Regions from separate parts of the Homo sapiens genome. Here regions 1 and 3 are each linked to region 2. The links come from fine-mapping of genetic effects on gene expression. A gene starts in region 2. Each other region holds a variant in brackets. All regions are shown on one strand. Distances are between the middles of the regions.

Region 1 (2,759 bases), 47 kb before region 2:
CCTGAAGGTTCTCTTCAAGTCGCAGATAGAGAAGGAAGGACTGGAGCACCAGCTGCGCCGGGAAATTGAGATCCAGGCTCATCTACAGTAAGGACAGTCTCTGCTTCCTCTTTCATCTTTGACGTCTGAGCCCAGCATTTTCCCCAAATACTAACCCCAAGTAAACCCTGCACTTGTACCTTGAAGACTTCTCTGCAGTTCATTCCATTTACACTACCTCCTACCCTGGGTCAGACACTCGAATCCTGGTTCCTGTTCTCCGTTCTCCCCTCACTTGCTCCCAGATAGGGCTGTTGTTATTCTGGTCCCAGCATAATTTGCCACTTGTGTGACCAGGCAGTGACGGTGGCATCATATGATAGGCCTCAGGGAGAAATCTGACTCTTCCAACATTAATCCTTCAGACACCCCAATATCCTGCGCCTGTATAACTATTTCCATGATGCACGCCGGGTGTACCTGATTCTGGAATATGCTCCAAGGGGTGAGCTCTACAAGGAGCTGCAGAAAAGCGAGAAATTAGATGAACAGCGCACAGCCACGGTGAGGTGCGGGTCTGGAGGCTCTGGGGTCTCTGAGTTTACTGTGGGCTGGTGGGAGCTCTGTTTGTGGCTGTCAGGAGGGTCCGCATTGCCTTCTGAGAAGTTTACTTCTGAATGTTATTGTGTAAATTTAATATAATGGCACGTATGTTCTACAGCTTTATCCTTGGATACCCTAATTAACCTCATTGTATCTCCAGAATATTAATAAGTACTGCGTATAGGTTTGGATTCTTTGGTTATAAGCAACAGAATCTAACTCCACTGCCTTATGTAAAGAAACATATTGAAAGGCTCTGAAGGAGTTCACTGAATAAATAGCTAGAACTGGCTTAGAGATAGGTACAAAGAGATTTCTAGAGGGTTCCGGAAAGGGAACCATGGCAATGATTTTCCCAGGAGCAATGGTCCAATCAGCTTGCTGTGTCAGGATGAGTGGTCTTCCATCTTTCCTCCTGTTTCTGTTTCACTTCCTCGGGCCTCAAGTCCTGTGAGAGATCATCTGAGTGGCTCAATGTAGGTTCTATGTCTGGCTACTTGCTGTGCTAGGACAACAGGGAGGATCTGTGTCCATGTTACCATCCATCCTATAAGACCACATAAAAAGGAGAGGAAAACCACACCCCACACACCAGTAACTGGTGCAATTTAAAAGGAGGAAATGGAGTTACTGGACCAAAAAGATTCCACTGTAATCATACAATTCATGGTAAGTGTTCCACCTCAGACGGAAATTGTGGCAGGCTTCACTTCCAGGGTGACTTTTCTTTGCACCCACAGATAATAGAGGAGTTGGCAGATGCCCTGACCTACTGCCATGACAAGAAAGTGATTCACAGAGATATTAAGCCAGAGAACCTGCTGCTGGGGTTCAGGGGTGAGGTGAAGATTGCAGATTTTGGCTGGTCTGTGCACACCCCCTCCCTGAGGTAGGTCAGGTGGTGGTGGTAGGGTGAGTTCTGAGTACCAGTTAGGAATGACCCAGTTTAATGTATTTCATGTGTCCATGTGTAAAACCTAGATACGAACTTGGGGTTTCTATTGGAATACTGCCTTTTTCTTTTCTTTTCTTTT[C/T]TTTTTTTTTTTGAGACAGAGTCTAACTCTTTCACCCAGGCTGGAGTGCAGGGGCACAATCTCGGCCTCCCAGGTTAAAGCGGTTCTACTGCCTCAGTCTCCCAAGTAGCTGGGATAACAGGCATGTGCCACCACACTCGGCTAATTTTTGTATTTTTAGTAGAGACAGGGTTTTGCTATGTTGGCCAGGCTAGTCTCGAACTCCTGACCTCAGGTGATCCGCCCACCTTGGCTTCCCAAAGTGCTGGGATTACAGGCGTCAGCCACCATGCCTGGCTGAACTACTGCCTTTTTCTTTTCTTTTTTTTTTTTTTTTTTTTTGAGACAGAGTTTTGCTCTTGTTGCCCAGGCTAGATTGCAATAGTGTGATCTCGGCTCACTGCAACCTCCCCCTCCCAGGTTCAAGCGATTCTCCTGCCTCAGCCTCCCAAGTAGCTGGGATTACAGGCATGGGCCATCACACCCGGCTGATTTTGTATTTTTAGTAAAGACGGGTTTCACCATGTTGGTCAGGCTGGTCTCCAACTCCTGACCTCAGGTAATCTGCCTGCCTCGGCCTCCCAAAGTGCTGGGATCATAGGCATGAGCCACGATGCCTGGCCAATGCTGCCATTTTCAAACACCTATACTTGATATGTATTCGTAGATTTAAATAATGTGGTCCAATCAAACCTTTTATTTTCTGATCTTTGTTAATATATAACTATACCAGTAAGTTTGCATGTAAATAAAGTCATTGCTCCACAATTCCAAAGGAGTGCATTTTTCTGTATGAATGATTTTCATACAGAAATTTTCTTACCATAATTTATTTACTTGGCTCTCATTGATACACCATCAGTTTGTTCTAGATCTTTCTTAATGCTGAGAATATTCTTGTGAAAACATTCTGGAGCATGAGCTAAATCACTGTGTGAATAATTCCAAAATATGGATTTATTAATAGTAGGCCCCAGTACTTTTCTGAACCTTGATCCATATTAAAAATTTGTCTCTCCAAACTCCTGTGCTTGGGAGGGACTTTCCAGGGTGTCCTAGGGTCTCCACATCTCAATGAAAGCTGGGGAAGGAGAATTTCCCTCATCCTGGGCCTCTGCTTAGTACTTATTCCCTTTTCTGCCTTCCTCTAGGAGGAAGACAATG
Region 2 (2,759 bases):
CCTCCTATCTCATCCTGTGACTCAGAATGCCTTAACTGTCTGGGAATGCAGCCTAGTAGGTTTTAGCTTCATTTTACCCAGCTCCTATTTAAGATAGAGTTGCTCTGGTTCATATGCCTCTGAAAAAACCATTTAAATTTAATTATAAGAGTCTGGCCAGAGGGGGTGGCTCACGTCTGTAATCCTAGCACTTTGGGAGGCCGAGGTGGGTGGATCACCTGAGGTCGGGAGTTTGAGACCAGCCTGAACAACATGGAAGAACCCTGTCTCTACTAAAAATATAAAATTAGCCAGGCGTGGTGGCGCACACCTGTAATCCCAGCTACTCAGGAGGCTGAGGCAGGAGAATCGCTTGAACCCGGGAGGCGGAGGTTGCAGTGAGTGGAGACTGTGCCACTGCTCTCCAGCCTGGGCAACAAGAGTGAAACTCCATCTCAAAAAAAAAAAAAAAAAAAAAAAATTTAAGAGTCACAAATATGTGAAAAAGAGAATGATGTCTTTATCAATTTTCAAAAATTACTATTGCCAGTGATGAATAACAGTGTTCCTTGCACACTAATTTAGCCAAAAATATTTCTCCAAAAGTACCGCATCGTGTAGGAAATTGACTCCATCTCCATTCCTTGACTATTTTCAATCTCAAAATTAAATCTCTTGGAGAGTACTTTCTGCACACCTTTCTATTTCCTTAACCATATATATCGTCAAACCATTGAAAGCTGGACTTTATTCTCTCACTTTCATAGTCATGAAAAGAAAAAAAAAAAGTTACTGATGGGGACTCCTAAGACTTCGCATAATATAATCTTTGCATAGTCTAGGATTGTTAAAATTCCTAACAAGACTTTATAAACTCTCCTGTCTGCAACCAGTTAATGCTGGGTTGGGCCAGGGTTCCCCTCTTTCCCGTCACTTATCCATCTACGCTCATTCTTTTCATAGCCTCACCCAATATCATGACTTGAAGTAACAGTTTACAGTAATAACTCCCAAATTTATATATCCACGCTCGAACCCTCTGCCAATGTTGAATCATAGGTTGAGTATATGGCACTACGCTTTGTGGTCTTACTGACGTTTCAAACTGATCATGCTTGAAATGGGAGTACTGGGCTTCCCGGCAAGCCTGCTCCACTAGCAGCCTCCCCACCTCAGGGTACGGGAAGTCCACACGTGGCGAACGCGAAGCCTATTACATCACCCGGAAGTCCCTGCATCCTACGAAGGCTGGGCCCGGCCAAAGGAGGCCCAATAGAGGGCGGTCTGTCCTTTCCCAGCAGGCTGGGCACACTGTCAGGCGTCCTCCTTTGGGTGGCTATTTTAACTGCTCATTTATCCTTTTCTTCTATGAAAAGATCCAGAAAAGAGGCAAAGCAAGCGAGAAGTCGCGGGCCCAGCCCACAGCAGGGTAAGCACCTTTGTTCGGGGTCTGAATCGGGGCGAATATCCCCGCCTCCTGACCTCGATTTTCCTGAGCTAGAAGGGACCTTTCGACCCTCCGACTTGTGCCTATACTAAGGCGGTGGCCCTAAGACGACGCGGGGGTTCTGGTGCGCACTTACGTGCAGTCGGATGCGCTGGGTGAGTTCCCACACCCGGTAGATGTAAGGGAAAAACTGCATTACCCAGAAGGCACTGCCCCTTGCGTCGGCCGCGGACTCTGGGCCATTGACGACCCAGGACAGGAGAGTTTTCTGCGGGCCAGGGCGGCGGAGGCGGGACTTCCGCTTCTTCGTGTGACGTCATCTCCGTGGGCCGGTTTGGCCCTGAAACAGTGTGGGGCCTAGAGCGCTGGGTGGGCGCGTTCTGCGGCCTGAGCAGGGACGGGTAGTGAAGCGGTTACGCCCCTTCTTCGCGTCTTGGCGGGAGCCTGACGCCCCGCTTCTCCCCTAACGAGGTGTCCCACCGGCGCCCGCCGAGGCCTAGGCCTCCGCAGCCGCCCTCCGTCTCCTCAGCCCCGACGCTGCGCCTTGGGCCTTGTGCGCATTTTTTTCGGGGGAAAACTGAGGCTCGGAGTGCGAAAGTCAGCCGAGGTCGCCCCGCCCAGGACAGAGAAGGGCTGTGGTCGGCTGATCCGCGGCATTCCCGGGATGGCGGCGGCGTGGATGGCTCCGGCGCAGGTGAGTGGACGAGGTTTCGGCCTTGCTGCTGCTGTGCTATTTCTAGAGGCCTCGTGGGCAGGCTGGAAGCCAAGACAGCCACAGGATTTTTCTTTGTCGCCATCGTTTATTTAAGAGAAATGGCCGTGGCTTGTCATTTCCTTTATCCGCAGTCCTGCAACAGTGTTGGCCTCTGATAGGTGTTCAGTCCGTGGTTGAAGGAGTGATGCTTCCTTCTAGGGATCTCATCACACTTCCCCTAAATCCAACCTTCTCTGTTGCCTGCCAGCCCGTACCCCATCCACCTGGCCAACCACCCCTGACCTTGTCTGTTTGCATTTTTCCCTGGTCCTTTGCTCTTCAGAGCCACCAACCTGACCGTGCAGTCCTCTTCCATTTTCCAGGCTTTCTCCTTGCACTTCCTTTTACTTCGAACACTGCCCCTGTAACTTTGCAGGGCCTCCCTTTCACATCCTTTTGGCATCTGTCCAGGTGTCACCTATTTGGAGGTGCCTTTTTTGGCAATTCCGGCTAAAGTGGCACCTTACACCCTTGCCCAGAGTCTGGTATTTTTGTGTAGATAATCTGATGGTATTAAAGAAGCTTGTGGATTTGAGTTTGTCAAGGATGTAATGGGAACAAAGAAAAATAATTGCAAAG
Region 3 (2,759 bases), 34 kb before region 2:
GGGTTGAAGTAGGAACTGAGAACCGCCACGATGGGGTCCTGGTTTCTCTGTCTGGGTCTGCTCATGTCACTGTCTACTCTGTATGGTTTTTTCTGCCTCAGCGAGTTCAGGGGAAGAGTAACCACCCCAGGTTTTACTGTTTGTGACCCCTCCTTCCCCTCCAGATTTCTTGTCTGTTTCTCTGGCCTCTGTGGGGCGTGTTTGAGGCAGCAAATGCTGCTCCACCTCCAGCTCATACTTGCCTCCATCTCTCACCCACTGCCCAGCATAGACTGGCCTCTGTCTGCAGTTTTTTTTTTGAGTTCCAGAGCGGGATCTGCCTGGGTGGGCCTGGTTGCTCATGTATCTGCTCCACAGCCCAGTCTGTGGTGTAAGGGTTGGTGGGATGTTCACTAAGAAGGGTTGAGTCAGGCAGGCCCCAAGGAGACATTGACCTTCCGTCCCACCAGGTGTTATTCTAAACAACCTTCACGTCCTTCAATCACCTTCACATCCTCTGATTCTAAAGTCACTCTGCTGCAGCCTTGCTGGGCTTCTTGCTATTTCCCCAAGTGCCCACCCACCTCAGGCCATTGCATTTGCTGTTCTCTTTGATGAGTGTTCTCAGGGTAATTCAGCATTTCACATGGCCGCCCCTTCTCAGCACCACTTGCCTCCTCACCCAGCCCTTCCCTGACCACCGAATCTTGGGGAGGCCCCTTTCTCACCATAGCCTCCTCCCTTTACCTTTTTAATGTCTTTCTAAGCTAGTGTTTCTCAAACAGGGACGATGTTGAGCTTCAGTGGACACTGGGCAATGTGTGGAGACATTTTGGTTGTTAAAACTAAGATGATGGGCCAGGTGCGATAGCTCATGCCTGTAATCCCAGCACTTTGGGAGGCCGAGATGGGCGGATCACAAGGTCAGGAGATAGAGACCATCCTGGCTAACACGGTGCAACCCTGTCTCTACTAAAAATACAAAAAATTAGCCGGGCGTGGTGGCGGGTGCCTGTAGTCCCAGCTACTCGGGAGGCTGAGGCAGGAGAATGGCGTGAACCCAGGAGGCGGAGCTTGCAGTGAGCTGAGATTGCACCACTGCACTCCAGCCTGGGCGACAGAGCGAGACTCCATCTCAAAAAAAAAAAAAACCTAAGATGATAACATTGACAGCTAGTGGGTGGAGATGCTGCTAAACATCCTTATAATGCACAGGACAGATCCTTTCTCCTCCTCTTCCCCCGATCTCACAAACAAAGAATTACCTGGACCTAAATGTCAATTGTGCTAAGGCGAGAAGCTCTTTTTCAGAGAGTGCTTGGACAGACACTACATCAGCTGGTGCTGAGAGACACT[T/C]GAGGAAGTTGTTCTTTTATTTCTTCTCGTCTTGTCTCCTTAGCATTTGAGGAAAACTCTGGTTTAGTGCTGAGACTTAACGTCCTGCAAACTGTTGGTAATTTCCCCTTTTCTACAGAGGGAGCAGCCTTAGGCTCACAGCCCTGAACAAGCAGCATGAGCTCACAGGGACCAAAGAGCACTGTTTGTTTGTCTTGAGACAGAGTCTCGCTGTTGCCTCGGCTGGAGTGCAGTGGTTTGATCTTGGCTCACTGCAACCTGTGCCTCCTGGATTCAAGCATTTCTCATGCCTCAGCCTCCTGAGTAGCTAGGATTACAGGCAGGTGCCACCACGCCCAGCTAATTTTTGTATACGTTGTTTTGATTTATTGCTACATTTTCATGGTTACCTGCCATCAAGACAAGTGACTCTGGATTTTCCATTTACCAGAGTGATAAGGATTCCATTTTTGAAGAAATCTAAGAAAAATAAAAAGTGGATCACTTTTAAGAAAAGCAGCCCGGGCATGGTGGCTCATGCCTGCAATCTCAGCACTTTGGGAGGGCAAGGCAGGCAGATCACGAGGTCAGTTGATAGCGACCATCCTGGCCAACATGGTGAAACCCCGTCTGTACTAAATATACAAAAATTAGCTGGGTGTGGTAGCGCATGCCTGTAATCCCAGCTACTCAGGAGGTGGAGGCAGGAGAATCACTTGAACCAGGGAGTTGGAGGTTGCAGTGAGCTGAGATCGCGCTACTGCACTCCAGCCTGATGACAGAGCGAGACTTCGTCTCAAAAAAAAAAAAAAAAAAAGAAAAGCAGTTAACAGTCCAGATCCCCAGAGCACTGATTGGGTGTCTCAGGCCTGTTCCAGGCAGTGTTCATGCTCCATTTATTCTCACAGGATCCCTGTCCTCAGCAAAGTAAGGAAAATTTAGCCACTCCTGTGAGTCCCTCATCCAGTTTAACTTACTCAGCACAGATGAAACACCTTCATTTTATGAAGCTATCACTGAATGTTTTTGTGTAGAAAAAATTCTTCTCTTGTGAACTTTTTTTTTTTTTTTTGAGATGGAGTTTCACTCTTGTCTCCCAGACTGGAGTGCAGTGGTGCAAGATCATAGCTCACTGCGATCCTCACACCTTACCGTCTCCAGTAGCTGGGACTACAGATGCGAGCCACTGCGCTGCTATATGAAGTTTCTGTAAATATCCTTATGTCACCATATCACAGTAGGATGTTCAGTCTTTAAATATTTTAATGGTTCGTGAAATGCTGGGGTCTGGAGTCACTGACCTGCCCCTCATCCTGGCCGCTGGTCCCTGAGGATGAATCCTCCAGCTCACATCTCTGCCTCGTCACCACCCTCTGCCACCCACTCTGGTGCTCGTGGTTTCCTCCTTACTGTATTTCTTGGGAGAGTAGGGTTTGAAGCCAGAA

Evidence for each region. PIP is the estimated chance that this variant, and not a neighbour inherited with it, causes the effect.
Region 1: its variant is fine-mapped to the expression of ZNF460-AS1 in whole blood (TOPMed, PIP above 0.99).
Region 3: its variant is fine-mapped to the expression of ZNF460-AS1 in whole blood (INTERVAL, PIP 0.92).

The regions. Positions count from the first base shown.
Region 1 is chr19:57,232,138-57,234,896 of GRCh38, forward strand. It overlaps AURKC (aurora kinase C), which reads left to right. Exons shown (of 7, transcript NM_001015878.2): 3 at 1-87; 4 at 405-543; 5 at 1,323-1,471; 6 at 2,747-2,759. Among named protein-coding and RNA genes, the nearest start is that of AURKC, 2.5 kb to the left of the region's middle. The variant C/T (reference allele first, on the strand shown) is at 1,617.
Region 2 is chr19:57,278,717-57,281,475 of GRCh38, forward strand. ZNF460-AS1 (ZNF460 antisense RNA 1) reads right to left here and starts at 1,618. Exons shown (of 3, transcript NR_136529.1): 1 at 1,563-1,618. It overlaps ZNF460 (zinc finger protein 460), which reads left to right and starts at 1,769. Exons shown (of 3, transcript NM_006635.4): 1 at 1,769-2,120. The coding sequence starts at 2,091. RefSeq lists enhancers at 965-1,904, 1,019-1,610, 1,028-2,227, 1,611-2,202 and a silencer at 2,625-2,674.
Region 3 is chr19:57,244,663-57,247,421 of GRCh38, forward strand. The region is part of intron 2 of ZNF805 (zinc finger protein 805); the gene reads left to right. Among named protein-coding and RNA genes, the nearest start is that of ZNF805, 5.4 kb to the left of the region's middle. RefSeq lists an enhancer at 1,379-1,673. The variant T/C (reference allele first, on the strand shown) is at 1,336.